Linked DNA regions of Homo sapiens: region 1 is linked to region 2. Evidence: fine-mapped expression QTL. A gene starts in region 2. The other region holds a variant in brackets. All regions are shown on one strand. Distances are from middle to middle.

Evidence for each region.
Region 1: its variant is fine-mapped to the expression of DDX46 in whole blood (INTERVAL, PIP above 0.99).

The regions. Positions count from the first base shown.
Region 1 is chr5:134,473,008-134,489,388 of GRCh38, forward strand. No RefSeq gene overlaps it. Among named protein-coding and RNA genes, the nearest start is that of LINC01843, 25 kb to the right of the region's middle. The variant ATT/A (reference allele first, on the strand shown) is at 10,703.
Region 2 is chr5:134,752,537-134,768,917 of GRCh38, forward strand. DDX46 (DEAD-box helicase 46) reads left to right here and starts at 6,243. Exons shown (of 23, transcript NM_001300860.2): 1 at 6,243-6,419; 2 at 11,368-11,556; 3 at 14,381-14,524. The coding sequence starts at 6,403. RefSeq lists an enhancer at 6,018-6,507.

The DNA.
Region 1 (16,381 bases), 280 kb before region 2:
CCAGCCTGGGCAACAAGAGTGAAACTCCATCTCAAAAAAAAAAAAAAAAAAAAAAAATCAGTCGACCTTAAATATAAGGGCCAATTTCTGGATTCTTGGTTCTATTCTATTGATCTATGTGTCTAATCCTTCACCAGTACCACAAAGTTGTAATTACTGTAGCTTTGCTGTAAGTTTTGGAAGTGAGAAGTGGCAGTCCTCCAACTGTTTTTTCAGATTATTTTGCCAATTCTGGTTCCCTTGCATTTCCACATGACCTTTAGGATTAACTTGTCAATTTCTGCAAAGAAACCAGTTGGAATTCCATGGGTATTACATTGTGTCTGTAGATCAATTTAGTGAATATTGCCATTTCAGCAACATTAAGTCCTCTGATCCATGAACATTTCTTTCCATTTATTTAGATCTTCTTTATTTCAGAAATGTTTTGTAGTTTTTGATATATAAGTCTTGTACTTTCTTGGTTAAATTTATTCCTAAATATTTTGGTTTTTTGAATTGTTCTCTTAATTTGTTATTGGATTATATTGCTAGTATATAGAAATACAATTGATTTTTGTATATTGATCTTTCATCCTACAACCTTGCTAAACTTGTTTATTAATTCTAATAGTTGGTGGATTCTATAGGATTTTCTATATACGAGATTATGCCGTCTGTGAAAAGAGATCGTTTTATTTCTTCCTTTGTGGTCTGGATGACCTTTATTTCTTTTTCTTGCCTAATTGCCCTGATTAGAATTTCCACTACAATGTTGAGTATTTGTGGTAAGAGCAGATATTCTTGTCTTGTTCCTGATCTTAGAAGGAAAGCATTTAATCTCTCATCATTAAATAGGATGTTAGAGTTTTTTAGATGCCTTTTATCAGGCTGAGGAAGTTTCTTTCTAGTCTTAGTTTGTTGAGTGTTTTTATCATGAAGGACTGTTGAATTTTGCCAAATGCTATTGAAATTGTCATGTGGGTTTTGTCCTTATTTCTACTGATATGGTGTATCACATTAATTGATTTTTTGATGTTAAACCAACCTTGTATTCCTGGAACAAATCCACTTGGTTATAGTGTATGAAGCTTTTCAGAGATGGCTAGATTTGATTAGCTAGCGTTTTGTTGAGGATTTTAATGTCCGCATTTGTAAGAGATCCTGGTCTACAGTTTTATTCTCTTGTAATATCTTTATCTACTTTTGATACCAGGTTAATACTTGACCTTATACAATAAGTTGAGAATTGTTGCCTGCTGTTGTTTTTTTGTTTGTTTTTGAGACAGACTTTTGCTCTTGTCACCCAGGCTGGAGTGCAATGGCACGATCTTGGCTCACTGCAACCTCCACCTCCCGGGTTCAAGCAATTCTCCTGCCTCAGCCTCCCTAGTAGCTTGGATTATAGGCACACACCACTACGCCCCAGCTAATTTTTGTATTTTTTTTTTTTTAGTAGAGATGGGGTTTCACCACATTGACCAGGCTGCTCTTGAACTCCTGACCTCAGGTGATCCGCCTGCCTCAGCCTCCCAAAGTGCTGGGATTACAGGCATGAGCCACCACACCCAGCTCCCCAGTTTATCTTTTTAAATGACTTATTTTTCCATATCATAAAAACAAGAAAATATAGAAAAGTATAACTAAAATTAAAATTACTCATAATCCTGCTATGTAGAGGTAACCACTGTTAATTAATCAATTTTTTTTTTTAAAGACGGAGTTTCGCTCTTGTTGCCCAGGCTGGAGTGCAATGGCACGATCTCGGCTCACCACAACCTCCGCCTCCCAGGTTTAAGCGATTCTCCTGCCTCAGCCTCTCGAATAGCTGAGATTACAGGCATGAGCCACCATGCCTGGCTAATTTTGTATTTTTAGTAGAGATGGGGTTTCTCCATGTTGGTCAGGCTGGTCTTGAACTCTCGACCTCTGGTGATCCGCCTGCGTCGGCCTCCCAAAGTGCTGGGATTACAGGTGTGAGCCACCGCACCCAGCCAATTAATCAGTTTTTTTGAGACAGAGTCTTGCTCTGTCACCCAGGCTGCAGTGAAGTGGTGCAATCTTGGCTCACTGCAACCTCCACCTCCCGGGTTCAAGCAATTCTCGTGCCTCAACCTCCCTAGAGGAGGGTATGTGCCACCACGCCTCGCTACACTGTTAATATTTGGGCATATTTTCTTCCCACTTTTTTCTATGCTTATATACATGTTAAAATACAAAATTGACATCATGTTCTATATGGAGCTTGGTATGCCATTTTGTTGTTTTTTAATGTTAAAATTACTCTTGTAAGCTACAATGGAACACTAATCATCCATAAAAAAGGAATGAAGTACTGCTACATTCTACATGGATGAACCTCAAAAACATCAGACTAAGTGATAAGCCAGACACAAAAGGTCTTACATGATTCCATTTATATGAAATATCCATAATAGTAAATCCGTAGAGATGGAATGCAGGTTGGTGGCTGCCAGGGGCTCAATGGTGTGTGTGTGTGGGAGGGAGTGGAATGGAGAGTCAGTGCTTAATGGGTACAGGGTTTCCTTTTGCAGTGATGATAATGTTTTGGAACTAGATAGAGGTGGTGGGTGTATAACATCGTGAATGTACTAAAGGATACTGAATTGCTGACTTTAAAGTTTGTATATAAAGGTCAGTGTTACCCTGATATCAACATCAGACAAGGATATCACAGGAAAAGAAAACTACAGGCCAAGTGCCATGGTTTATGCCTATAATCCCAGCACTTTAGGAGGCCAAGGCAGGAGGATCCCTTGAGCCTCCAGGAGTTCGAGACTGGCCTAGGCAACAGAGACCTCGTCTTTACAAAAAATACAAAACAATTAGCCAAGCATGGTGGCCTATACCTGTAGTCCAAGCTACTCAGTAGGCTGAAGTGGGAGGATCCTTGACCCTGGGAAGTTGATGCTGCAGTGAGCCAAGATTGTATCATTGTACTCCAGCCTGGGCAACAGAGTAAGGCCCTGTCTTCAAAAAACAAAAACAAAAAAAGAAAACTACAGATCAACATCTCTTATGATTATAGATATAAAAATCCTCAACAAAACACTAGGAAAAAACAAAAAAACTTTTTTGAGATGGTCTCACTCCATCACCCAGGCCCACTGCAGCCTTGACCTCCCAGGATCAAGTGATCCTCCTGCCTCAGCCTCCCAAAGTGCTGGGATTACAGGCATGAACCACCACACCCAGCCCCAAATTTTTTTTATGTGAACCTCACCTCAATAAAAAAAATTACATTTGTGAGCATTACTACATGTGATTTAAAGCTCTTTAGAAGTATGACTTTAGCCAGGAGTGGTGGCTCACGCCTGTAATCCCAGCACTTTGGGAGGCCAAGGCGGGTGGATCACCTGAGGTCAGGAGTTCGAGACCAGCCTGGCCAACATGGTGAAACCCCGTCTCTACTAAAAATACAAAAATTAGCTGGGCGTGATAGGGCACCCCTGTAATCCCAGCTACTCGGGAGGCTGACGCAGGAGAATCGCTTGAACCTGGGAGGCAGAGGTTGCAGGGAGCTGAGATTGCACCATTGCACTCCAGCCTGGGTGACAGAGTAAGACTCTGTCTCAAAAAAAAAAAAAAAAAAAAAGAAGTGTTACTTTAAAGTATCTTTAAAATATCTTACTTGAGGCCAGGCGCGGTGGCTCAAGCCTGTAATCCCAGCACTTTGGGGGCCGAGACGGGCGGATCACGAGGTCAGGAGATTGAGACCATCCTGGCTAACACGGTGAAACTCTGTCTCCACTAAAAATACAAAAAAAAATTAGCCAGGCGTGGTGGCGGGCACCTGTAGTCCCAGCTACTCGGGAGGCTGAGGCAGGAGAATGGCGTGGACCTGGGAGGCGGAGCTTGCAATGAGCCGAGTTCCTGCCACTGTACTCCAGCCTGGGTGACAGAGTGAGACTCCATCTCAAAAAAAAAAAAAAAAAAAACTTATTTGATTTTTAAATTACAATACGTACATATGTACATATTTGTGATGAAGTGAAATAATAGTTAAGGATTATGTGCAATCTCAGAATCCCATAATAAATTCTCAATAGCTACAAAACATTTCATTATAAATATGTCTTATTTTACTATATATCTAACTCATCTAACATTTTTTATCATTACATGTTGTGGTTTAATGAATATCCTTATGATTGTTTCTTAGAAGTAATTATTATTTACTGAGAACCCTTTTTGGTTTTTTTTGTTTTGTTTTTTTGTTTTGTTTTATTTTGTTTTTGAGACAGAATCTTGCTCTGTCTCCCAGGCTGGAGTGTGGCAGGATCTCAGCTCACTGCCACCTCCGCCTCCCAGGTTCAAGAGATTCTCCTGCCTCAGCCTCCCAAGCAGCTGGAATTACAGGTGGTTGCTGCCACCACACCCAGCTAATTTTTGTATTTTTAGTAGTAGAGACTCTCACCATGTTGGCCAGGCTGGTCTAGAAGTCCTGACCTCAAATGATCTGCCTGCTTTGGCCTCCCAAAGTGCTGGGATTACAGGCGTGAGTCACCATGCTTGATCTGAGAACCATTTTCTTAGGATTGATTCCTAGAAGTAATTGGGTCAAAGTGAGGCAGGGGTCAGGACTCGACTCCGGAAGTAGAGTGCTGACACTGAAGCAAATTGAGGACTAGTTAAAATAGGGACTGGGTGGAAGCAGCTTTCCATAAGACATGCCCTGCCAGTGTGTCATGTCAGTTTACCACTGCCATGGCAACACCCAGAAGTTACTGTCCCTTTCCATGGCAACGACCCAGTGACCTGGAAGTTACCATCCCTTTACTAGAAATTTCTGCATAATCTGCCCCTTAATTTGCATTTAATAAAAAGTGATATAAATATGACAGCAGACCTGCCTTTGAGCTGCTACTCTCAGCATAGTGTCTATGGAGTATCCCTGCTCCACAAGAAGCAGTACTTCTGCTGCTGCTGAATATCACCACTTCAATAAAAGTGGCTGGCTAACACCTCCAGCTCACCCTTCAGTAAAAGTTGCTGTCTGGCCGGGCGCGGCAGCTCACGCATATAATCCCAGTGTGGGATTTGGGAGACCGAGGCAGGTGGATCACAAGGTCAGGAGTTCGAGACCAACCTGACCAATATGGTGAAACCCCATCTCTACAAAAAATACAAAAATAGCCAGGCGCGGTGGCTCACGCCTGTAATTACAGCACTTTGGGAGGCCAAGGTAGGTGGATCACAAGGTCAGGAGATCAAGACCATCCTGGCCAACGTGGTGAAACCCCATCTCGACTAAAAAAATAAATAAATAAATAAAAATTAGCTGGGTGTGGTGGTGCGTGCCTACAGTCCCAGCTACTTGGGAGGCTGAAGCAGGAGAATCGCTTGAACTCGGGAGGTGGAGGTTGCAGTAAGCCAAGATTGCACCACTGCACTCCAGCCTGGGGACAGAGAGAGACTCCATCTCAAAAAATTTTTTAAAATTAAAAAAAAAAAAAAAAAGTTGCTATCTAACACCCCCAGCTTGCCCTTGATTTCTTTCCTGGGCAAAGCCAAGAACCCTCCCAGGCTAAGTCCCAATTTGAAGGGTTGCCTGCCTTGCATCAAAACGGGAGGGGCCAACATTTGTAAGATTCTTCAAGCAAACTGCCAGTATTTTTCCCACAGTTTGAGCAACATTATGAATTATTATATTTCAAAAAGGTCTTTAGGCTGGGCAGAGTGTCTCACGCCTTTAATCCCAGCACTCTGGGAGGCCAAGGTGGGAAGACTGCTTGAGGCTAGGAGTTTGAGACCAGCCTGGGCAATATAGTGAGATCTTGTCTTTACAAAAAATTAAAAATTAGCTGAGCATGGTGGTGCTTGCCTTCTTGGGAAGCTGAAGTGGGAGGCTCATTGAGCCTGGGAGGTGGAGGCTGCGGTGAGCCAAGATCACACCACTGCACCCCAGCCTTGGTGACAAAGTGAGATCGTATCTCAAAAGAAAAAGAAAGGGCGAAGATATAAAGATTGATTGATTGATTGATTTTGATGGAGTCTTGCTCTGTCGCCCAGGCTGGAGTGTAGTGGTGCAATCTCAGCTCACTGCAACCTCTATCTCCCGAGTTCAAGCAATTCTCCTGCCTCTGCCTCCTGAATAACTAGGATTACAGGCACCTGCCACCATACCCAGCTAATTTTTTGTATTTTTAGTAGAGATGGGGTTTCACCATGTTGGCTAGGCTGGTCTTGAACTCCTGACCCTCAAGTGATCCACCCGCCTCGATCTCCCAAAGTGCTGGGATTACAGGTGTGAGGCACTGCACCCAGCCTTTTCAAAATTTTTTATTTTTATTTTTTAGAGGCAGGGTCTCACTCTGTTGTCAGGCTGGAGTGCAGGGGCACACTGATAGCTCACTGCAGCCTTGAACTCCTGGACTCAAGCAAACCTCCCACATCAGCCTCCCGAAGTGCTAGAATTACAGGCATGAGTCACGACATCCAGCCAAAAATAGAAAGCTTTTAAAAGGTACTATAGGAAAATATCTTTATGACCTCAGGATAGAAAAAAAATTATTAAACTAAACATGCAAAAAGATGCACAAATTGAATCATACTAAAATTTAAAATTTGTTTATCAAAATATCATTATGAGAATGACCCAAAGTAAGAGGAAATATTTATGAAATAACTAGTAAATGGCTTGTATCCAGAATGTAAAGAACTCCTACCATTTCATAAGAAAAATAACTGATGACGGTAATCCCCCCTTATCCATGGGGGTTACATTTCAAGAACCCCAGTAGATGCCTGAAACCATGCATAGTGTCAAACCCTATGTACATGATGGTTTTTCCTACATGTACACACCTATGATAAAGTTTAATTGATAAATTAGTCACACTAGGAGATTAGTAACAATAATAAAAAAAATAGAACAATTATAACAATATGCCAACATCACAACTTTTGTACTTTGGGGCCATTATGAAGTAAAGTAAGGGTTACCTAACACAAGCACTGCAAAACCATGACAGTCCATTGGATAACCCAGACAGCTTCTAAGTGACTAACAGATGGGCAGTGTATACAGTGTGGATACCCTGGACAAAGGGACAATTCACATTCCCAGTGGGAAGAATCAGGACATTGTGAGATTTCATCGCATCACTCAGAATGGCACGCAGTTTAAAACTTATGAATAGTTTACCTCTGGAATTTTTCATTTAATATTTTTAGGTTGCGATTAATTATGGATAATGGAAACCACAGAAAGCCAATCTCTGGATAACGAAGAGACTACTTAAATAGTAAAAATATTACATATAAAATGTTGTGGGTATAGCTAGGACAGTATTTAGTGAAAAATCTATAGCATTAAATGCATACATTTTAAAAGAACACTTGTTAAAAATGGATAAACCAAGGATATATTTCAGGAAGTTATTCTCAAAGAAAGAAGATGAAATAATAAATGTAAGAGAAAAATTTCAGGTAATAAAAAACAAACAAACAATAGAAATATTTTTTTTTTTTTTGAGACAGAGTCTCACTCTGTCACCCAGGCTGGAATGCAATGGCATGATCTCAGCTCGCTGCCAGCTCCACTTTTTGGGTTCAAGCGATTCTCCTGCTTCAGCCTCCTGAGTAGCTGAGATTACAGGTGCACACCACCACGCCCAGCTAATTTTTGTATTTTTAGTAGAGACAGGGTTTCACCATGTTGGTCAGGCTGGTCTCAAACTCCTGACCTTGTGATCCACCTGCCTCGGCCTCCCAAAGTGCTGGGATTACAGGTGTGAGCCACCATGCCTTGACAATAATTTTTTTTTAATATGAAACTTTGTTCTTCCAAAAGACTAATTCAAATGACAAAACTCGGGTGAGCTAACAAAGAAAAAAAGAATAAACAAATATTAGGAATGAAGAAGACATTACAAGAGATCACATATACATCTAAAAATTACTAAGAAGTTATGAACAACTTATTGCCAATAAAAACATATAGATGAAATGAAAAAATTCCCAGAAATAATAATTTACCAAATGACTCATGAAGAAGGAGAAAACGTGAATAGTCCTATAACTATTAGAGATTGAAACTGGCCAGGCACTGTGGCTCATGTCTGTAATCCCAGCACTTTGGGAGGCCTAGGCAGGTGGATCACCTGAGGTCAGGAATTCGAGACCAGACTGGCCAGCATGGCAAAACCCCATCTCTACTAAAAATACAAAAAACTATCTGGGCATGGTGGCAGGTGCCTGTAATCCCAGCTACCTGGCAGGCTGAGGCAAGAGAATCGCTTGAACTCAGGAGGTGGAGGTTGCAGTGGCCCAGACTGCGCCATTGCACTCCAGCCTGGGCGACAAGAGCAAGACTCTGTCTCAAAGAAAAGATTGAAACCATAATTTAAAATCTTCCCACAAAGAAAACTCCAAACCCAGATAGCCTAACCTGTGAATTACATTGAATATCCAACGGAAAATAAATTCTATTCCTACACAAACTCTTCTAGAAGTTCAGAAGTTTCTATTCCCAAAGAACTGGTGTTACCTTCCTCAACTTATTTTATAGAGCTAACATGACCCTGGTCCCCAAATCTGACAAGGTCAAAATGGAAAAATTAAAGACTGATCTCCTTTATAAACACAGATATAAAAACCCTAAACAAAGTATTGTTAAAATTTAGCAACATATAAAAAGGATAGTACATATGACCATCAGGTTATATTAAAAAAAAAAAAAAAAAATTGGCCGGGCATGGTGGCTCACGCCTGTAATCCCGGCACTTTGGGAGGCAGAGAGGCAGGCGGATCACCTGAGGCTGGGAGTTCGAGACCACCCTGACCAACATGGAGAAACCCTGTCTCTACTAAAAATACAACGTGGTGGTGCAGGCCTGTAATCCCAGCTACTCGGGAGGCTGAGGCAGGAGAATCGCTTGAACCACGGAGGTGGAGGTTGTGGTGAGCTGAGGTCACACCATTGCACTCCAGCCTGGGAAACAAGAGTGAAACTGTCTCAAAAAAACAAAACAAAACAAAAAAACAAGTTAATGCAATTTATCATATTAACAGATTAAAGGACTACAGTTATCTCAGTGGATGCAGGAAAAGTATTTTATAAAACACAACATTGAATTAAATGAATGAATTTTTTTTTTTTTTTTTTGAGACAGAATCTTGCTCTTTGCCCAGGCTGGAGTGCAATGGCGCAATCTCGGCTCACTGCAACTTCTGCCTCCCAGGTTCAAGCGATTCCCTGCCTCAGCCTCCCGAGTAGCTGGGACTACAGGTGCCCACCACTATGCCTGGCTAATTTTTGTATTTTTAGTAGAGACGGGGTTTCACCATGTTGGCCAGGCTGGTCTCGAGCTCCTGACCTCAAGTGATCCTCCCATCTCGGCCTCCCAAAGTGCTGGGATTACAGGCATGAGCCACCATGCCCAGCCTTGAATAATTTTGTATTTTGTTTGTTTCTTTTTTTTTTTTTTTTTTTTTTTTTTTGAGACAGAGTCTTGCTCTGCCGCCCAGGCTGGAGTGCCGTGGCGCGATCTCGGCTCACTGCAAGCTCCGCCTCCCGGGTTCACACCATTCTCCTGCCTCAGCTTCCCAAGTAGCTGAGACTACAGGCGCCCGCCACCACGCCCGGCTAATTTTTTGTATTTTTAGTAGAGACGGGGTTTCACCGTGTTAGCCAGGATGGTCTCCAACTCCTGACCTCGTGATCCACCCGCCTTGGCCTCCCAAAGTGCTGGGATTACAGACGTGAGTCACCGCGCCCGGCCTGAATAATTTTTTAAGGTCACTTTTATCAAACTGGAAATGTAAAGAAGCTTTCTTGATCACATAAAGGCTGTCTTTAAAAAAATAACTAAAACAAGGATTATACCTCGTGGTGAAACAATGAAAGTTTTCCCTTTGAAAATGGAACAAAACAGAGATATTCACTACTACCACTTTTTTTTTTTTTTTTTTTTTTTTGAGACTCCCGTCTCGCCCTGTCGCCCGGGCTGGAGTGCAATGGCGTGATCTCCGCTCACAGCAAGCTCCGCCTCCTGGGTTGGAGTGCAATGGCGTGATCTCCACTCACTGCGAGCTCCTAGGCTGGAGTGCGATGGCGTCATCTCCGCTCATGGCAAGTTCCGCCTCCTGGGTTGGAGTGCAATGGCGTGATCTCCACTCACTGCGAGCTCCTAAGCTGGAGTGCGATGGCGTGATCTCCGCTCACGGCAAGTTCCGCCTCCTGGGTTGGAGTGCAATGGCGTGATCTCCACTCACTGCGAGCTCCTAGGCTGGAATGCAATGGCGTGATCTCCGCTCACTGCAAGCTCCACCTCCTGGGTTGGAGTGCAAAGGCGTGATCTCCACTCACTGCAAGCTCCGCCTCCTGGGTTCACGCCTTTCTGCTGCCTCAGCCTCCCAAGTAGCTGGGACCACAGACGCACGCCACCACGCCCGGCTAATTTTTTGTATTTTTAGTAGAGACGGGGTTTCACCGTGTTAGTCAGGATTGTCTCGATCTCCTGACCTCGTGATCCGCCCGCCTTGGCCTCCCAAAGTGCTGGGATTACAGACGTAAGCCACCGCGCCCGGCCTGAATAATTTTTTAAAGGTCACTTTTATCAAACTGGAAATGTAAAGAAGCTGTCTTGATTATATAAAGGCTGTCTTTAAAGAAATAAAACAAGGATTATACCTCGTGGTAAAACAATGAAAGTTTTCCCTTTGAAAACTGGAACAAAACAGAGACATTCATTACTAC[ATT/A]TTTTTTTTTTTTTTTTTGAGACTCCCGTCTCGCCCTGTCGCCCGGGCTGGAGTGCAATGGCGTGATCTCCGCTCACAGCAAGCTCCGCCTCCTGGGTTGGAGTGCAATGGCGTGATCTCCACTCACTGCGAGCTCCTAGGCTGGAGTGCGATGGCGTCATCTCCGCTCACGGCAAGTTCCGCCTCCTGGGTTGGAGTGCAATGGCGTGATCTCCACTCACTGCGAGCTCCTAAGCTGGAGTGCGATGGCGTGATCTCCGCTCACGGCAAGTTCCGCCTCCTGGGTTGGAGTGCAATGGCGTGATCTCCACTCACTGCGAGCTCCTAGGCTGGAGTGCAATGGCGTGATCTCCACTCACTGCAAGCTCCGCCTCCTGGGTTGGAGTGCAATGGCGTGATCTCTGCTCACTGCAAGCTCCGCCTCCTGGGTTCACGCCTTTCTGCTGCCTCAGCCTCCCAAGTAGCTGGGACCACAGACGCAGGCCACCACGCCCGGCTAATTTTTTGTATTTTTAGTAGAGACGGGGTTTCACCGTGTTAGCCAGGATGCTGTTGATCTCCTGACCTCGTGATCCACCCGCCTCAGCCTCCCAAAGTGCTGGGATTACAGGCAGGAGCCAACGCGCCCGGCCCGTGTTTTGTTTTGTTTTGTTTTGTTTTTTACTGTGATGGCCAGAACCGTTAGTATAATGTTAAATAAAAGTGGTAGTAATGATGCCAGGCGCGGTGGCTCACGGGAGGTCAAGGCAGGCGGATCACTTGAGATCAGGAGTTTGAGACCAGCCTGTCCAACATGGTGAAACCCCACCTCTACTAAAAATACAAAAATTAGCTGGGTATGGTGGCAGGTGCCTGTAATCCCACCTACGTGGGAGGCTGAAGCAGGAGAATCACTTGAACCTGGGAGGGAGAGGTTGCAGTGAGCCGGGATTGCACCACTGCACTCCAACCTGGGTGACAGAATGAGACTCTGTCTCCAAAAAAGAAAAGAAAAGGAATAAGGATTGTAAAAAAAAAAAAAAAAAAAAAAGCAAAAATTATAGATGTTATGATTGTATACAGAAGGAATTTTTAAATCTATAATTAGAATTAATCTATAATTCAAGTTTCCTGGACTTCAAAAAAATCAATATACAAAAATCAATGTGTTTAACAGCAACAAAGGGAAAATTATATTTTAAAAGGACAGCCTTCATAATATAATTTTAAAATACCAAATTATTCAGAATTTAGTAACAGCTGAATAAGTCTCTAATGCAGAAAAATATATAGTATTATTGACAGAAACCAAAGAAGATCTCAGTAAATAGAGTAATATATGATGTTCATGGATTTGAAAACTCAATATTACAAACACTGTCAGTTCTTCTCACAGTGATATACAGACTCAATGTAATTTCTAATAAAAACCCATGTAGCTAGGTGCTGTGGCTCACATTAGTCTATAATCCCAGCACTTTGGGAGGCTGAGGCTGGAGGATCGCTTGAGCCCAGGAGTTTGAGACCAGCTGGGCAACATGACGAAACCACATCTCACATCTCTACAAAAAACATATAAAAATTAGCTGAGCATGGTGGCACACACCTGAAGTTGCAGCTACTCAGGAGGATAAAGTAGGAGGCATACCTGAGCCCAAGAGTTCAAGGCTGTAATGAGTTATGATCATGCCACTGCACTCCAGCCTGAGTGACAAAGCGAGATGGATTTTTTTCTAGAACTTGGTAAGATAATTTTTACGTTTACGTGGACATGTGAAAGACCGAGAAGAGCTAGGTCACTACAGAGGAAGAATGAAGTTAAAGAAATTGCTCTAAATTTCTGTAAGTACTAAATTACTATAAAGCTGTTGTAATTAAAAGGGGATGGCATTGATTTGGGGATGCGCAATAAGCCCAATGGAAAAGAGATGAGATCACAGAAATAGATCCACACATATTTAGATGCTTGATGTATGACAGAGATGGCACTATATAGCAGTGGCAAAAAGACTCTCAATAAACTTTGCTGGGATATCTGAGTACCCATATGTGAAAATAATAAAATTGGACCCCTACCTCACACCATACCTCAAAATCAACTCCAGTGTCATATGGCCCTAAATATAAAAGACAAAATTACAAAGCTTTAAAGTAATAATGTAGAAGAATATCTTCATAGTCTTGGATTTTAAAAGTTTTCTTAAGTAAGGTACAAAAAGTAATATCGCAAAGGAAAGATGGACAAAATTAGGAATATCTGTTCATCAAAAGACAACATTGAGTGAAAGGCCAGCCACAGAGTAATAGAAGATAATTGCAACAGATAAAACTGACAAAAATCTTGTTGCTAGAATATATACAGAATTCATATCAATTAGTGATAAAAGACAGGCAATCCAGCAGAAAAATGGGCAAAAGATAGGAACTTTACAAAAAAGAAATCCAAAAGTCAGTAACATAAAAATGTGATCAACTTCTTTAGTAATGTGGGAAAGGTAAAATAAAAGCATAATAAAGTACTACTACACACTTACCAAACTGACCAAAATTTAAAATTTTGACAATTCCAAGTTTTAGCAAAAACACTCATTCATGTAAATTTACACAAACTTGTATAACTACTTTAGAATACAGTTCAGCATTATCCAATTAAGCTGAAAATAACATACTCTATGCCCCAGCAATTCTGCTCTTAGATAAATATCCTACAGAAAAGTGAGCTTACGTGCATCAGGAAACATGGACAAGAATGTTCATAGAAGCATTGTTTGTAGTAGTCTTGTCATAGGTCAGGTTCTCAGGAAACATGCTGGGATAGAGTTTGGGGTACAAGATATTTATTAGGATCAACATTGATATGGTTTGGATATTTGTCTCCTTCAAATATCATGTTGAAATGTGACCCACAATGCTGGAGGTGGGCCTAGTGGTAGGCATCGGGTCACAGGGCTGATCCCTCATGAATGGTTTGGTGCCCTTGCTGCAGTAATGAGTGGTAATGAGTTCACAGGAGAGCTGGTTGTTTAAAGGAGCCTGTTACTTCCTCCTCTCTTGCTCCATCTCTTGCCATGTGACACACCTGCTCCCCCTTTGCCTTCCACCATGAGAGGAAGCTTCCTGAGGTCCTTCCATAAAGTAGATGCTGGCAGCATCATGCTTCATGTACAGCCTGCAGAATGGTGAGCCAAATAAGCCTACTTTTTTTTTCTTTTTTTTCCTGCTCTTCTCCCTCCACCTCTTTTCTTTCTTTTTTCTTTTTTTTTTTTTTGAGATGGAGTTTTGCTCTTGTTGCCCAGGCTAAAGTACAATGACGTGACCTCGGCTCACTGCAACCTCCTTCTCCTGTGTTCAAGCAATTCTCCTGCCTCAACCTTCCGAGTAGCTGGGATTATGGGCACCCACCACCACATTGGGCTAATTTTTGTATATTTAGTAGAGACAGAGTTTCACAGTGTTGGCAAGGCTGGTCTCGAACTCCTAACCTCAGGTGATCCGACCACCTAGGCCTCCCAAAGTGCTGGGACTACAGGCATGAGCCACCACACCCGACCCTCTTTTCTTAATAAATTACCCAGTCTCAGGGATTCCTTTATAGCAACACAAATAGACTAATACAAACATCTCTGAAGGGAAGGGAGAAAAAGCAGGATTGGGCAGAAGTTAAAACTGTGATGCAGGCCTAATGAAACCCAAGCCAAGCTGGCGGGGAACTCTGGTGCAAATAGTCTGCATCTGAGTTGTCCTGTGTTGGATGAAAATGGCCCAGCCTCCATTCACTTGCTTTCGTTGGATACTAGATGCAAAGTGCTCTGGAAAGGATATGATGTTGGGCAAGGCAGCTCTCTGCAGCTCAGGTGGACCCCAAAGAAGCTGTCATCTGAAGGTTTCTGCTGATCACACCCTCTACAACTGGACAGCAAATCCTTCCTTGAAGAGGGATCTGGGTGACACATCTCTCTGTCTACCACAGGGCCCAAACTGGAAACAACATAAATGCCTATCAAGTGAAGAAAGGTTAGACTCTGCAGTGTTCATATAATATACTCATAATCCCCTAGTGTCTCCTTGTGCCTCCTGATCCGTCACTATAGGTTGGTCTTTTTTCTAGAATCATATATTAATGGAACTATACAGTATATACTAATTATATTGAGGCTCATCTATGTTGTTGTATGTAACAGCAGTTCATTCCTTTTTATTGTTGAGCAGTATTCCATTATCTGGATATATGGCAATTTGTTTTTCCACTATCTTGTTGATAGACATTTGGATTATTCCCAGTTTGGGGCTGTTATAAATAAAGCAACTATGAACATTGTGTACAAAACTTTGTATGGACATATGCTTTCATTTCTCTTTGGTAAATACCTAGGAATGGAATGGCTGGGTCATATGATAGGTATATATTTATCTTTTTAAGAAATGATCTAAGTGTTTTCCGAAGTGGTTGTTCCATTTTGCGTTCTCATCAGCAGCATATGAGAGAGTTCCTGTTGTACCCTTCCTGGACTCCATCTTTGCCAATACTTGATTTGGTCAGTTATTTTGTTTTATTGTTTGTTTTTCTGTTTTGAGATGGAGTCTCGCCCTGTCGCCCAGCCTGGAGTGCGGTGGCAAGATCTCGGCTCACTGCAATCTCCACCTCCTGGGTTCAAGCGATTTTCCTGCCTCAGTCTCCCAAGTAGCTGGGATTACAGGCGCATGCCACCATGCCCTGCTAATTTTTGTATTTTTAGTAGAGACAGGGTTTCACCATATTGGCCAGGCTGGTCTCAAACTCCCGACCTCAGGTGATCCGGCTGCCTCGGCCTATGAAAGTGCTGGGATTACAGATGTGAGCCACCACGCCTAGCCTGGTCAGTTATTTTAAATTCTAGCCCTTCTAGGGGGCATGTAGTTTTAATTTGTAGTTGCCTAATGACAAACTGTGTTGAGCATCTTTTCATGTATTTATTTGCCATCTAAATATATTTCATTGATGAGGTGCATATTCAATTCTTTTGCCCATTTTTCAATTGGGTTATCTTTTTATTGAGTTTTAAGATATATGTTTTACAATTTTTTTTTCCAGTCTGTGGCTTGCCTTTCATAATAGCTCTTAATTTTGATGATGCCCAATTTATCGATTTTTATAGTTTGTGCTCTTTGTAGCCCATTTAAGAAGTCTCTGCCAAACCCAAGATCACTAAGATTTTCTGCTATGTTTTTTTCTAGAAGTTTGATAGTTTTAGCTCATACATATAGGCCTATGATCCATATCAAGTTAGCGTTTTGTACTGGCCTAAGAGTCAAGGTTCATTATGTTGCATATGGCTATACAATTGTTCCAGCACTATTTGTTGGGGAAAGATTGTTCACTCCCCATTGAATTGCATTGGTAGCATTTGTTGAAAATCTATTGACCATATATATGAGTGTTCTATCTTTACACAAACACTACATTTTTACAGTTTTTAATTCACATGAATTCATTTAGTATGAGATCTGAAGTAAAGATCTGGACTTATTTTGTCCCCATTAGTTAACCAATTGTCCCTGCAAAAATTAAAAAAAAAAAAAAAAAATCATGTTTCTTATCCCTACTGTTTTGAGGCCCAAGTTTACTACAGATTTATTATGCCATATATGAGTCTATTTCTGGGCAATTATTTTTCACTGATGTGTCTGTGGCTTAGTATTAGTTCTGTGAAGAGAGCTT
Region 2 (16,381 bases):
AATGCCTGGCTAATTTTTTGATTTTTTGTAGAGACAGGATCTTACCATGTTACCCAGGCTGGTCTCAAACTGGGCTCAAGCAGTCCTCCTGCCTTGGCCTCCCAAAATGCTAGGATTACAGGTATGAGCCATTGTGCCTGGCCTACTTTTCTTTCTTAAAAAAAAAAAATCATTTAGCCAGCTGACACATGCAAAATTTTAGTAATTGTAGATCATTATCAAATTTATATTTTGAAGACAGTTATAAGATATCTGTATCTATTGGTGCCATTTTTTGTCTTTAACTGATAGGCATCTCCCTGATCATTTGCTTGATTTGTTGAATAATATCAAGTAGAAATGAAAGTTTTTTTTGTTTGTTTGTGTTGTTTTTTTTTTTTCTGAGACAGAGTTTCGTTCTTGTTGCCCAGGCTGGAGTGCAATGGCACAATCTCGGCTCACTGTAGCCTCTGCCTCTGGGGTTCAAGCAATTCTCCTGCCTCAGCCTCCCGAGTAGCTGAGTTTATAGGCATGCACTACCACGCCCAGCTAATTTTGTATTTTTAGTAGAGACGGGGTTTCTCCATGTTGGTCAGGCTGGTCTGGAACTCCAAAGCTCAGGTGATCCACCTGCCTCGGCCTCCCAAAGTGCTGGGATTACAGGTGTAAGCCACTGCGCCCGGCCTGTTTTGTTGTGTTTTGTTTGACAGTTTCACTCTGTTGCCCAGGCTGGAGTGCAGTGGCATGATGTACAACCTCTGCCTCTCAGGTTCAAGCAGTGCTCACGCCTCAGCCTCCTGAGTAGTGAGTAGCTGGGATTACAGGCATTGCCACCATGCCTGGCTAATTTTTGTATTTTTAGTAGAGATGGCGGTTTCACCATGTTGGCCAGGCAGGTCTCAAACTCCTGACCTCAAGTGATCTGCCTGTCTCAGCCTCCCAATTTGCTGAGATTAAAAGTGTGAGGCCGGGCGTGGTGGCTCACGCCTGTAATTCCAGCACTTTGGGAAGCCGAGGCGGGCAGATCATGAGGTCAGGAGATCGAGACCATCCTGGCTAACACGGTGAAACCCCGTCTCTACTAAAAATACAAAAAATTAGCCAGGCATGGTGGCAGGCACCTGTAGTCCCAGCTACTCGGGAGGCTGAGGCAGGAGAATGGCATGAACCTGGGAGGCGGAGCTTGCAGTGAGCCAAGATCGTGCCACTGCACTCCAGCCTGGGCGACAGAGCAAGTCTCTGTCTCAAAAAAAAAAAAAAGTGTGAGCCACTGCAGCCGACCTGAAAGTTTCTTTTTTTTGAGACAAGGTCTCACTATGTTGCCCCTGTCGGAGTGCAGTGGCATGATCAGGGCTCACTGCAGCCTTGCTTTCCCAGGCCCAAGCAATCTTCCCACCTCAGCCTTGCAAGTAGCTGGGACCACAGGCATGTGCCACCACCCCTGGCTAATTTTTGTTTTGTTTTTTTCAGAACAGAGTCTCTGTCGCCCAGGCTGGAGTGCAGTGATGTCAGTCTCAGCTTACTGCAGCCTCTGCCCGCCCCCCGGGCTGGTTCAAGCGATTCTCATGCCTCAGCTTCCCGAGTAGCTGGGATTACAGATGCATGCCACCACATCTGGCTAATTTTTTGTATTTTTAGTAGAGACAGGTTTCACCATGTTGGCCAGGCTGGTCTCGAACTCCTGGCCTCATGTGATCCACCCACCTTGGCCTCCCAAAGTGCTGGGATTACAAGCGAGAACCACTGCGCCTGGCCTGGGAATTGAAGTTTCTTAGTGTTTGGAATAGTTTAAAACGTTTTTTATTTGGAAATTTCTGGGTTTTGAAATGTATATGGACTGGCTGGGCACCATGACTCATGCCTGTAATGCCAGCACTTTGGGAGGCCGAGGCGGGTGGATCACTTGAAGTCAGGAGTTTGAAACCAGCCTGGCCAACATGGTGAAACCCTGTCTCTACTAAAAAAACCAAACCAAAACAAAAAAAAATTAGCCAGGTGTGGTGGCGGGCGCGTCTGTAATCCCAGCTACTCAAGAGGCTGAGGCATGAGAATCACTTGAACCCGGGAGGCAGAGGTTGCAGTGAACTGAGATCGCGCCACTGCACTCCAGCCTGGACAACAGAGTGAGACTCTGTCTCAAAAAAAAAAAAAAAAGGTATATGGATTAAAACTAGAGGGACAAGGATGGTTGTTTAGAGGTGACATCTTGACCATGTAACCTAGTAGTTTTTTTAGTTCAATTAGTTGTGTAAATGGACATGTGTCATCACAGTTGGCACTAAAAACAGCAAGTGGGTTATTAGATATTCAATACTGGGTTAGTAAGTCAAGTCACAGTCAAAATCTGCTGCTTTGGAAAACAGGTTAGTTTACTGAAAGTGATGTATTAGAACACAGACTATAGTCATTTCTTTCACCTATCTAAATAGATAAAATCTTCCAGCCTCACACCTGTAATCCCAGCACTTTGGGAGGCCGAGGCAGCAGATCACCTGAGATCGAGAGTTCGCGACCAGCCTGACCAACATGGAGAAACCCCGTCTCTACTAAAAATACAAAATTAGCTGGGAGTGGTGGCTCATGCCTGTAATCCCAGCTATTTGGGAGGCTGAGGCAGGAGAATCGCTTGAACCTAGGAGGCAAGGTTGCAGTGAGTCGAGATCGCGCCATTGCACTCCAGCCTGGGCAACAAGAGTGAAACTCCGTCTCTAAAAAAAGAAAAAAAAAAGCCTTCCTCCAGGACAGACTTGATGTGAATTTACTATAAATATATTGTGGTGGAGTGGGGGTGGTGCACACCTGTAATCCCAGCACTTTGGGAGGCCAAGAGAGGCAGATCGCTTGAGACCAGGAGTCCAGGAGTTTGAGACCAGCTTGGGCAACATGGCGAAACCCTCTCTATGAAAAATACAAAAGTTAGCTGGTGGGGTGGTGTGTGCCTGTAGTCCCAGCTACTAGCTACTTGGGAAGTTGAGGCACAAGATTCGCTTGAACCTGGGAGGAGGCTGCAGTGAGCCGAGATCACAGTACTGCACTCCAGCCTGGGCAACAGAACCAGGCCCTGTCTCAAAAAAAAAAAAAAAAAAAAAAAAAATATATATATATATATATATATATATATATATAAAATATATATTCTATATATATTATATTAATGTAATATTAATTAGAATATATATTATATATATAAGAAATATTTAAGCCAGTTAGAATTGTCTTGTTAATGTGTTGTCTTAAAGGGGAGTTGGAAATAAAGTATCTTGAAGACAGCTCTGGCCTAAGTGTCAGATCTCTGGACTCTAGTTCCAGGTTAGATTCCAACAAGGTTAGTGATCTAGGATGAAATATGTTTCCTGAGTCTCAGTTTTGTTACTTAAAATCAAGAAGTTTGAGTTTGTGATTTTAAAAATCTATAACATTAATCCCATGATTCTTTTTATTATTATTTTTTGAGACAGAGTCTCGCTCTGTCGCACAGGCTGGAGTGCAGTGGCGCGATCTTGGCTCACTGCAACCTCTGTCTCCCGGTTTCAAGTGATTCTCATGCCTCAGCCTCCCGAGTAGCTGGGATTAGCACGCACCACCACACCCAGCTAATTTTTGTATCTTTAGTAGAGACATAATTTCACCATGTTGGCAAGGCTGGCCTTGAAGTCCTGCCCTCATGTGATCCACCCGCCTCAGCCTCCTAAAGTGCTGGGATGACAGTCATGAGCCACTGCATCTGGCCCTAATCCTGTGATTCTAAGCAATATTCAAATTGTGTTAATTTCAAAAATTAAGGACTTATTTCCATTCACTTCTGCATGGCCTCATCCAGTCCATGGCTTCAAATACTGTGTATTATACATTCTATAAAATGCTGAGGACCCATATCTCTCCCGCCTCTATTTGTAGCTGTTATTTCCTGGATGTCTAGTAGGCACCTCAAATATCACATGACTGAAACAAACTCAATGACTTTCTCTATTTCCTCCACTAAATCTGTTGCTTCCATGCTTTTCTCATCTCCACAAATTCACCACAGTCCACAATAGCTCTGTTGAAAACCTGGCAGTCATCTTTTATTCCTTCCTTTCCGTCATAGCTCACATCCAGTTTATCTATTGGCGCTTTGAGAGCTGCTTCCAGAATACACCCAGAATCTGATCACTTCTCAGTCTTCATTGTTTAAGCCACTGGTGGTTTTCTATGTCTTTTAGGTTGAAATCCACATTCCCTACCTGCAGCCCACATCCAAACAATTTACAGGGGGATTCCTAACCCTCCTTGGTGTCCATCCTGTCACTCATTAATTAGCTCAGGCCTTCTTACCCTTGGCATGGACTGCCAGAACCTCCAGTCTCTATCCCTCTTCAATGCTTCTCGCAGCTACCACAGGTGGGCAGCAAGCCACGGGGGGCGTGGGGAGCATAAACTCATCTTGGAGTGTCACTCGTTGGTTTGCTTTTTTTCTTTAATCAACTATGTTGAGGTAAAATTTACATACAATAAGTCATGTACAGTTAAAGGGTACAGTTCAGTGAATTTTGAAAAATGTGCAAATCTATTCAATGACCACTAAAATCAAGACACAGAACTTTTCCATCATCTTTAGGTGTAAGAAAGTAAAATAGTACAGAGGCAAGTAAAGTAAAAATATGAGCCTTTCTCCAACTCCATTATAGCTTTTTGCAAAAACAACTCAACATGGCCGGGCACGGTGGCTCATGCCTGTAATCCCAGCACTTTGGGAGGCCGAGGCGGGCAGGTCTCCTGAGGTCGAGAGTTCAAGACCAGCCTGACCAACATGGAGAAACCCCATCTCTACTAAAAATACAAAATAAGCTGGGGTGGTGGTGCATGCCTGTAATCCCAGCTACTTGGGAGGCTGAGGCAGGAGAATCGCTTGAACCCAGGAGGTGGAGGTTGTGGTGAGCTGAGCTCTCACCATTGCACTCCAGCCTGGGCAACAAAAGCGAAACTCCGTCTCAAAAAAAAAAAACAAAAAAAATTCAACATTTCTGTGTGTGTTGCATGAGACAATACATATACATTTTTTTGGTGCCCAAACTCTCGAATAATGTTCTCAATCTTGACTGTACTTCAGAATTACCTGGGAAGCTTAAAAATTCCCAGTGCACAAGAAGCACTCCAGGCCAATTAAATCAGAACATAGGGGTGGAACCCAGGCTTCTATTTTATTTACTAATATTTTAGAGATGAGATTTCTCTGTGCTACCCAGGCTGGAGTCATCATAGCTCACTGCAGCCTCAAACTCCTGGGCTCAAGTAATCTTCTTGCCTCAGCCTCCCTGGCTCAAATGATCCTCTCACCTCAGCCTCCCAAGTAGCTAGAACCACAGGCGTGCCAGCACACCTGGCTAATTATTTTGCTTATTTTTTGTAGAGGGTCTCGCTATGTTGCCCAGGTAGGTCTTGAATTCCTGGGCTCAAGCCATCCTCCTGCCTCGGCCTCCCAAAGTGCTGGGATTATAGGCATGAGCCACCATGGCTGGCCCTTTTTTTGTTTTTTTGTTTTATTTTTAAGCTTCCCAGTGCAAGCAATGTTGAGAACTAATCTTTTGCCAAAGTATTTTTAGCTCTTTGTTCTCTACTAGGTTAACACCTACCGGGTCTTCAAATCTCACCTCAGAGTTCACTTCCAAGGGAAACGTGTTTTCTGAATCCGTCTCCAATGGTGGACTCTCCTTGCTGTATTACTTCTGCTTGTGTTTTTAGTCAAGTCTATTATTATTACTATTTTCTTTGCAGAGACGAGGGCTACGTTGCCCAGGTCTTGAATTCCTGGGCTCAATAGATCCTCCCGCCTCAGCCTCCCAAAGTGCTGGGATTTCAGGCGTGAGCCACTGTGCTGGCTTTAGTCATCTGTTTCCCGGATAGACTGTGAGCTCCCCAGGATCTAGCACAAGCCTGGCATATGACAACATAAATAAATGAGTGAATGTATACATGAATAAAGAGCGTGTACGGAGAAAGTTGCCGCATTATTTAGCGCAAATTAAGGCAGACATCAGCCTGCCCAGGACGCCTCTTTGGCTCTGGCGCGAAACACCCTCACGGGCCGGCGAGGCTGACGCGCTGCGCTCCATCGCACTAATCAGCCGGGCGTGGTGCGGGCGCCGGGAAGACTGGGCGGGGCGAAGGCATCACCTTTCGATGGGGCCGGCGCTGTGCGTCCTCCAGTCGAGGTGGGGCGCTGTGGAAGAGCGGCAGCTTCCGGTCGGCTTTTCTCTTCCTTCGGCTGCCGGCGCCAGCACGTCCTGTTTTCGTTGGCCGCGCTGGGATGGCCGCCACAGCTGTAGGTGCTGCTAGTGTTTAGCGCTGGTCTTTGCCGGGCGTTGAGGGCAGCTCAGCCTCCTTGTTTGTCCGGTTCGCCTGTGCGTGGTACTCAAGGGCACCAGTATTCCCGCGGTCGGCAGCATGGGTCGGGAGTCACGGTGAGGCAGAGCGCCGAGCGGGCTAGCGGGCGAGCGGCTTCTTGGGGTCGTGAGAAGAGGCGGGAGTTGAGGTGGCCGCCGGGCCAGGCCTGGCGCGGCCCCACGTGCGGTCAGCGCTGCCCCGCGAGCATTGGAAGGGCTGGGGGACCTCGGCTGAGGGAATGGTTGTGTTTGGGCCAGCGACGGCTTCCCCTGCACTACCATCAGAGGGTTCGAGCCCCTGGAGCGGGAACAACCCTCCAGGACGTTAGTGATTGGGCACCACATCCCGCCACTTCAAGGGAGCCTGCCCTGATTACTTCAGTCAGAAGTGATCCCAGTTGGATTGCTTATTGCTTCGCGTTTCCAACATTTCCTCGACTCCTGTCATTCTGTATTTTAGTTCTTTGTGCGCGTATGATCTTTTCCCAAGTTACTTGAAAGGAGCGTGTGGGCAGACATTTTTACCGCATCGACAGCACTATACACGACTAGGCTTTTACTGGGCTACAATAAATACTTGTTGCGTGGGCATTTACTTCGCAAATAGATTTCGTATTTAAGCAGGTAACTTTGTTACCTGCTTTTCTGTCCTTTTGAAGTTGTGGACTATGAGCTCTTATTAGAACTCATTAGATCTCATCACAACTTTAGATTGTTGATAGATTGTTAGGAACCTTGAGATTTTTATGTTAAAAATGACTATTTGCTATGTATTTAGCAATGACTGAAAGATATTTTATGTCTAGGAACAATGAAGGCTTTTGTTGTTAGTGCTAACAGTTCTTTGTTGAGGTACAATTAACAATCAGGGAAATGGACAAAACGTAAGGGTAAAGCTTGATGAAATTTAGCAAATATATAAACCGTGTAATCATCACCTGGATGAAGATAAAAAATATTTCTTTAACTACAGAAAATTCCTGTGACGGTGTTTTAAATCTCCGGAAGGCTGTCCAGACCAGAAATCTGAAAGTGATATTTATTTGACTCATTCTTCTCTCTCACTACCCACAGCCTGTTAGATTCTACATCCTTTGCCCATTCTGGTTGTCCCTGACTTAATTGAGGCCCTAATTATTTATTGTCCAGACTACTACATCTGTTTTAAATTGATTCTCTGAATTGATTGTCTTCCTCTGTTGCTCTCCTAATTGTTAGATCCCTTACACTACAGCCAGAGTGACACTTCTGAAGTAGAGATAAGATGATGGCATGCCCCTGACTTAGTCTCCATTGGTTTCTACTGCTTCCAAGATGAAATTTAAACTCTATGACAGCCTTCAAGGCCCTTCACAAGAAGGTCCATTCTAGCCCGTCAGCCTTCTCCTTTACCTCTCTGGTGTGCATGGCCTGTGCTCTAGGTTTGTTCAGGGAATCATGAAAGGCTTAGAGGTGGGAAGGCGCAAGGTGTTAGAGAAATAGCTAAAAAGCCCAATTTTTCTGCATATGTAGGTTTCATGAAGGGATTTTATCTTTTTTGAGAAGTAGTAGGAGGTAGGTCCTGAATAGGACTTGGGCCCAGAAAGCGGGTGGATTGTAGATTTTGAAGATCAGAATTTGTTTGTGAACCTTTGAAGATTTTGAGTAAAAAGTGTGTAATAGAATCAGAATTCTCCTTAGCAGCAATGAGTAAGATTTAATGGAAAAGTAATAGAAACAGGAAGACTACAGTCTTTAAGAATCTCCTAGGTAGATATGTCTGATATAGAATAGTGACGGTTGGAACTCTGTGGAGGTGATATAATGTGAAGGGAATTACAGAGGTGAAATTGGTATTACTTGGTTGTTTTTTTGTTTTTGTTTTTGTTTTTGAGACAGAGTCTCGCTCTTTCGCCAGGCTGGAGTGCAGTGGTGGGATCTCGGCTCACTGCAAGCTCCGCCTCCAGGGTTCACGCCATTCTCCTGCCTCAGCCTCCCGAGTAGCTGGAACTACAGGCGCCTGCCACCGCGTCAGGCTAATTTTTGTATTTTTTAGTAGAGACGGGGTTTCACCGTGTTAGCCAGGGTGGTCTCGATCTCCTGACCTTGTGATCCACCCGCCTCGGCCTCCCAAAGTTCTGGGATTACAGGCGTGAGCCACCGCACCCGGCCTGTTTTTTTGTTTTTGAGACAGGGACTTGCTCTGTCTCCCAGGCTGGAGTGCATTGAAACAATCTTGGCTCACTGCAACCTATGCTTCCCAGGTTCAAGAGATCCTCCCACCTCAGCCTCCCGAATAGCTGGGACTGCAAGCGTGTGCCACCACGCTTTGCTAATTTTTGTATTTTTTGTAGAGACAGGGTTTCACCATGTTGCCCAGGCTGGTCTCAACTCCTGAGGTCAAGCTCTCTGCCCACCTTGGCCTGCCAAAATGCTGGGATTACAGGCATGAGCCGCTGTGCCCAGCCAATTGGTGTTTTATTTATTGTATCGAATGAGAGCAAGAGAAAAATATTGATGATGACTAATGTTTTGAGCCTAGTGACCGGAAGTTGGTACGATTAATCGTTTGGGGAGGGAAGGGTAACAAGTTTGGGTTTCTACAGATTGAACTTGAGGTGCTTGAGAGATAATCAGGTGCATTCATCTCCTAGTGATCTTATTTAGGTTTATAGCTTTAAATAGCCTTTGTACACTAATAGCTGTCCAGTTTATATTTCTAGAGAAACCTCTTCCTTGAACTACAGGCTAATATTTCAACTATATACTATATATCTCCACTTGGATACCTAATATTCTGATCCACCTTCTCCCTGGATTTCTCCCTCAGCCTTCCCATCTTGGTAAATGGCAACTGAGTGATTTCTCTCTTGCTGTCACACTTGACATTTAGTTCATCATTAAATCCCATCGGTGCTAGCTTCAAGATATCCAGATTTTGATATTTCTCAAAATCTTTCCACCTTCCATTTTGATCTATGCCACCACTATCTCATGCCTGGATGATTGCTATAGTGCTGGTCTTTGCTAATCCTGCCTATTCTTTCTCCTTTTGTCCTTGCCTCCCTTTGTTTGGTTTGTTCTCTCAGCAACCAGAATAATACTTTAAAAACATTAGGCCAGGTGCAGTGGCTCACACCTGTAATCCCAGCATTTTGGGATTACATTAAGTGGAAGGATTGCTTGAGCCCAGGAGTTTGAGACCATCCTGAGCAACATAGCAAGACTCCATCTCTACAAAAATGAAAAATAAAAAGAAATAAATAGGTGGGCATAGTGGCACACGCTTTTATGCTTTTGGTCCCAGCTACTTGGGAGGCTGAGGTGGGAAGATGCTTGAGGCCGGGAGGTTAAGACAATCCTGAGCAACATAGTGAGACACCATCTCTACCCAAAAAAAAAAAAAAAAAAAATTGGTGGGCGCGGTGGTGTGTGCCTTTGGTCTCAGCTACTCTGGAGATTGAGGTGGAAGGATTGCTGGGGCCCAGTAGGTTGAGGTTACAGTGAGTAGCAATTGAGCTGCTGCATTCCAGCCTGGGTGACAGAGTGAGACCTTGTCTCAAAAAAGAAATTTAAAAAAATGATAAAAAGGCTGCATGCGGTGGCTCATGCCTGTAATCCATCCCAGCACTTTGGGAGGCTGAGGCAGGTAGATCACCTGAGGTCAGGAGTTCCAGACCAGCCTGACCAATGTGGTGAAACTGCCTCATCTACTAAAGATACGAAACTGGCTGGGCGTGGTAGTATAGGCCTGTAATCCCAGCTGCTTGGGAGGCTGAGGTAGGAGGATTGCTTGAACCTGGGAGGCAGAGGTTGCAGTGAGCTGAGATGGTGCTATTGCATTCCAGCCTGGGCAACAAGAGTGCGACTCTGTCTCAAAAAAAATAAATAAAATAAAATAAAAATAATTAGCTGAGTGGCCGGGCGCAGTGGCCCAAGCCTGTAATCCCAGCACTTTGGGAGGCTGAGGCAGGTGGATCACGAGGTCAGGAGATCGAGACCATCCTGGCTAACATGGTGAAACCCCATCTCTTCTAAAAATGCAAAAAAAATTTAGCCTGGCGTAATGGCGGACGCCTATAGTCCTAGCTACTCGGGAGGCTGAGGCAGGAGAATGGTGTGAACCCGGGAGGTGGAGCTTGCAGTGAGCTGAGATTGTGCCACTGCACTCCAGCCTAGGCAACAGAGCCAGACTCTTTCTCAAAAAAAAAAAATAATAATAATAATTAGCTAAGTGTGGTGACGCATGCCTGAAGTTCCGGCTTCTTGGGAGGCTGAAGTGGGAGGATTGCTTGAGCCTCAGAGAGTTGAAGTTGCAGTGAACTGTGAGCACATCACTGCACTCTATCCTGGATAATAGAGTGAGGCCTGTTTCTAAAAATAAAAATAAAAACATTAATGAGGTTGTGTCACTCCTCTGCTTAAAGTCTTCCAGTAGATTTTCATCTTGGTGTAAAAGACAGAGTCCTTATATAATGGCCAGTAAGGCCTTCCAGGTTTGGCTTCCCTGCTGTTTTTCTGACCTCGTCTTATGGCACGCTGTGTCACTCTTTCAACACTAGCCACAACTGGCATCCTTGCTGTTCCTTAAACTCACCAGTCAAGCTTCCTCTTTAGGGACTTTGCACTTGTGCCTTTTGCGTGGAAAATTCCCTGTATATCTACATGGCTCCTTTATTTCCTCCAAGCCTCTGTAACAAATGTCATATTTATATTGTATATAAACATACTATATACAGTGTTTGTTTCTTCACTTGTCTGCCGTCTTTTCCTTTACCGGAGTGTAAGCTGCCTGGAGCTCAAAGGCAGGAGCTTGGTCTGTTTTGTTCACTGTCCTTGCCTCTCTTTCAAGACAGATTTTCCACCTCTACATGTGTCTGTGCTGAAGCAGAAGGGTTCATTTTTTCCCTCCTAATTTTAGAAAAATTCATAAAAAGTTCTTTGAGTGTTAAATTTGTCTGCTGAAATTATTTTTAGAAAAAATGTAATAAAATGTAATAGAAGCTAATGGTGTTTGCTGAACTTAATCTTTGACTTATTGTTCTAGCCACTATCGAAAACGATCGGCATCCCGGGGTCGCTCTGGAAGTCGGTCTAGAAGTCGCTCACCCTCAGACAAAAGAAGTAAACGTGGAGATGACAGACGGTCTAGAAGTAGAGATAGAGATAGGAGGAGAGAGAGGTCTCGTAGCAGGGATAAAAGAAGATCTCGGTCAAGGGACAGGAAGCGTCTGAGGTAAGACATTAATTAATTTCCAAAAGACGAGTGATAAATTGGGCCTTCTCGGCTATAGCAGGCTTCTTGAAAAGTATGTTTTCAACTGGAGTTTGGTGGCCCAATTGCAGGCCCTTTTCTTTATCCCCTACTTGTTTGATTAGACCCAGAAGGATGTGCCTACAAAGACTCTATCAAACAGTGTTTTTTTTTTTTTTTAATCTTTTTTGAGACAGAGCCTCACTCTGTTGCTCAGACTGGAGTGCAGTGGTATCATCTCTGCTCACTGCAACCTCCACCTCCTGGGTTCAAGCGATTCTCATGCCTAAGCCTGCCAAGTAGCTGGGATTTCAGATGTGCACCACCACACCTGTCTAATTTTTGTGTCTTTAAAAGAGACGGTGTTTTGCCATGTTGGCCAGGCTGCTCTCGATCTCCTGGCCTCATGTGATCCTCCCACCTTGGCCTCCCAAAGTGCTGGGATTACATGTGTGAGCCACCGTGTCCGACCATCAAACAGTGTTTTTAGTTTGGAAACTTTAGGCTGTATTTCCTGTAACCCAAAGACATCCCTTGAAGCCCTCTGAGGGACATACAAAATGAAGTAAAAAGTAAAGTAATAAGTTATATTCAAGAGGGTTCTATTCCAATTCTGCTCCAGGAGAGCTGACCAAGGTGTTAATTTTCTTTCCTTTTTTTTTTGCCACCCTTGTTGAAATTTGTAAAATTTCCTTCCTCTCTCCCTCCTTCCCTCCCTCCCTTCCTCCATCTCTCTCTTCCTTCCTCCCTATCTCCTTCCCTTCCACTCTCTCTCCCTTCCTCCCTCACTCTTTCTCTCTTTCTCTTTCTTTCTTCATTTTGCTAAACAGTGTGTTTAGAGCAGCCTCTAAAGCAGGCAGAAAAAGGAAACAAAGCAGACCCTCTCCAAGCCTCTTAAACTATTTTAATGAGCTGTCATAGATTTAAACTAAAGAGCGCCTTAATCTTTTTTTTTTTTTTAATTTATTTTTTTTTTGAGACAGAGTCTCACTCTGTCACCCAGGCTGGAGTGCAGTGGCACGATCTAGGCTCACTGGAACCTCTGCCTCCCGGGTTCAAGTGATTCTCATGCCTCAGCCTCTTGAGTAACTGGGATTACAGGCATGCTCCACAAAGCCTGGATAATTTTTGTATTTTTAATAGTGACAAAGTTGGCCAGGTATGGTGGCTCATGCCTGTAATCCCAGCACTTTGGGAGGCCAAGGTGGGTGAATCACGAGGTCAGGAGTTTGAGACCAGCCTGGCCAACATGGTGAAACCCCGTCTCTACTAAAAAAAAAAAAAAAAAAAAAATTAGCCAGGTGTGGTGGTGCATGCCTGTAAACCCAGCTGCTCGGGAAGCTGAGGCAGGAGACTTGCTTGAACCTGGGAGGTGGAGGTTGTAGTGAGCCGACATGGTGCCACTGTACTCCAGCCTGGGCGACAGATCAGGACTCCATCTCAAAACAGAAAAAAAGAAAATAATCTTCTGTGCACACCACACCCAGCCAATTAAAAAAAGCTTTTCATAGAGATGGGGGTCTTAACTGTGTTGCTAGTGGCCTCCCAAAGGGTTGGGACTACAGGTATGAGATACCATACCTTGCCCAGTTTCTCATTAAAATAGGAAAGGAAGACAAGATTGTGTTGTGAGTGGATCATAGAAAGAATTTAACTTTATCCTTTTCAGACATTGGAGTACATTGTTGTTACGTAGGATTCAGGGAAAATATTCACCCGTGACAATGTGGATAGCATTTTCACATTTTGTGGTCCTAGGAACAATTTCACACAATTAATTCAAGTACTTAAGTGAAAATGGTTATTTAACATTTGGTCTTTGACTTTTGGGTGTGAAAGTAGAATCACAAGATTTTAGAGCAAGAGGGATTTTAAAGATGTCTAGTGAAGTCTCCATATTTTATAGATGATGAAACTGAGACCCAGAAAGTTGGAGATCTGACCTTCATCATGTCATTAGTTACCAGGAGTAGCAGGATAGAAATTCTTGCCTCTTCATCTTCAGATTAGTGATCTTTTAGTAGACCCATTATGCCCATCCTTATACTTAGGTTTAGGCTATCTGAAACTAGATATTCTATCTTAGACCATCGATTTTCAATCGATGTTAATTACAGACTTATTATGGTTTTTTCACAAACATCTTTATGAAATTAGTATTCTCTGGCCTGGCATGGTGGCTCACGCCTGTAATCCCAGCACTTTGGGAGGCTGAGGCAGGCAGATCACCTGCGGTTGGGAGTTCGAGACCAGCCTGACCAACATGGAGAAACCCCATCTGTAAAAATACAAAATTGGCTGGGCATGGTGGTGCATGCCTGTAATCCCAGCTACTCAGGAGGCTGAGGCAAGAGAATCGCTTTAACCCAGGAGATGGAGGTTGTGGTGAGCTGAGATTGCGCCATTGCACTCCAGCCTGGGCAACAAGAGCAAAACTCTGTCTCCAAAAAAAAAAAAAAAATTAGCCGGGCATGGTGATGCACATCTGTAATCCCAGCTGCTGGGGAGGCTGAGGCAGGAGAATCACTTGAACCCAGAAGGCAGAGGTTGCAGTGAGCTGCAATTGTGCCACTGCACTCCAGCCTGGGTGACAGGTGTGAGACTTTGTCTTTAAAAAAATGAAAGAAATAAATTAGTATTCTCATTTTTTTCGTTGAGCACTTATAAGACTTGGCTTTACTTCATTGAGACCTCCACCTTTAATAATGGTAGTGATTAAGATTCTTTCAATGTGGGACAGAATCCCCTGATCTGAAATAGTAGCTCCATTTGGTCATAGAATAAATGAAAAGTGTCCCCCTTTCAGACGTTCCAGAAGTAGAGAGAGAGACAGAAGCCGAGAGCGAAGAAGATCTCGAAGTAGAGACAGGAGACGCTCAAGGAGTAGAAGCCGGGGCCGGCGATCCCGATCCTCCAGTCCTGGAAATAAAAGCAAGAAAACTGAGAATAGGTAATGTTATCATTGGGCTGCATCTATAGTGCAGACTGGGGACTGCTTCCCTTCTCTGCGCCTTTTTTTTTTTTCCCTGTAAGTTTGTATTTATAGAGAATTAACTGCATTTGGCTCCTACCATGAACTGTTGGCAGTGTTTTATTTTAATTGGCTATAATGTTTATAATTCAACTGGAAAATAATAGATTCTGTCAGTTTTAACATTCAATACATTGTATTCTTACTTAATACATAACTGTCAATCAGAAATGTATTTTATAGACATCTTTGTAGAAACTCTGTCATTTTCTTTTCAGGCAGGGTCTCACTCTGTTGCCCAGGCTGGAGTGAAGTGGCAAGAACATAGCTCACTAACCTTAAACTTGTAGACTCAAGCAATCCTCTCACCTAGGCCTCCAAAAGTCCTGGGATTATATGAAGAGGCAGACATAATATCCCAGCTAATTTTTATGTTTTTAGTGGAGATGGGGTTTTGGCATGTTTGCCAGGCTGGTCTCGAACTCCTGACCTCAAGTGATCTGCCCACCTCGGCTTCCCAAAGTGCTGGGATTACAGGCCTGAGCCACCGCGCCCAGCCAAGACTTGTCTTAAAAGTTAAGAAATTAGGCCAGGCGCGGTGGCTGACGCCTGTAATCCTTGCACTTTGGGAGGCCAAGGTGGGCGGATCACCTGAGGTTGGGAGTTGGCGACCAGCCTGACCATTGTGGATAAACCCCGTCTCTACTAAAAATACAAAATTAGCTGGGCGTGGTGGCGTATGCCTGTAATCCCAGCTACTCTGGAGGCTGAGGCCGGAGAATCGCTTGAACCCAGGAGGCAGAGGTTGCGGTGAGGTGAGATCATGCCGTTGCACTCCAGCCTGGGCAACAAGAGTGAAACTCCTTCTCAAAAAAAAAAAACAAAAAAAAGTTAACAGAAATTAAGACAATGTGCAATTTGTTTAGCAGTGGACAGACAGATTAGTGAACCATGTAAAGAGCCCAGAAAGGCATCCATACACATGGTAATTTGATAGATGACAGAGGTGATGATGTAATAAGTGAAGATTTTTTTTTTTTTTTTAACAGCCAAAGTCTCGTTCTGTTGCCCTGGCTGGAATGCAGTGGTGCAATCTCGGCTCACTGCAACCTTCGCCTCCCGGGTTCAAGTAATTCTCTTGCCTCAGCCTCCCGAGTAGCTGGGACTGCAGGTGTGTGCCAACATGCCCAGCTAATTTTTTGTATTTTTTAGTAGAGATGGGGTTTCACCGTGTTAGCCAGAATGGTCTCGATCTCCTGATCTCGTGATCCACCCGCCTCGGCCTCCCAAAGTGCTGGGATTAAAGGCGTGAGCCACCGTGCCTGGCCAGAAAAATTTTTAAATTGCTCTAGGGATATCTAGTATCCTTTTATGAAATAAGACTGCCTACCTTATTCTGTGTACAAAAAGCAATTCCAAGCAAAGACCAAATTAGATGGCAAAATTCTAAACCTTTTAGAAGTTTGTGCCAGAGAGTATCTTCTTCTTCACCTCTAGGTATCTTACATCAAATCTGGAAGGATTTCTAAACTACTTTAAAAAGCACCAATTATAAAGGAGAAAAAAGGTTGACTAATTTGATTACATTAAAATTAAGAAATTTTATTCATTATGAGATGCCGTAAGTTGGGGTGCGTAAACAAGTTGGGTTTATTCCAAGAATGGCAGGTTATTTTAACATTAAAAAATCATTAGAAGTCTGGGTGAAGTGGCTCACGCCTGTAATCCTAGCACTTTGGGAGGCCGAGGTGGATGGATCACGAGGTCAGGAGTTTGAGACCAGTCTGACCAACATGGTGAAACCTCGTCTTTACTAAAAGTAAAAAATTAGTCAGG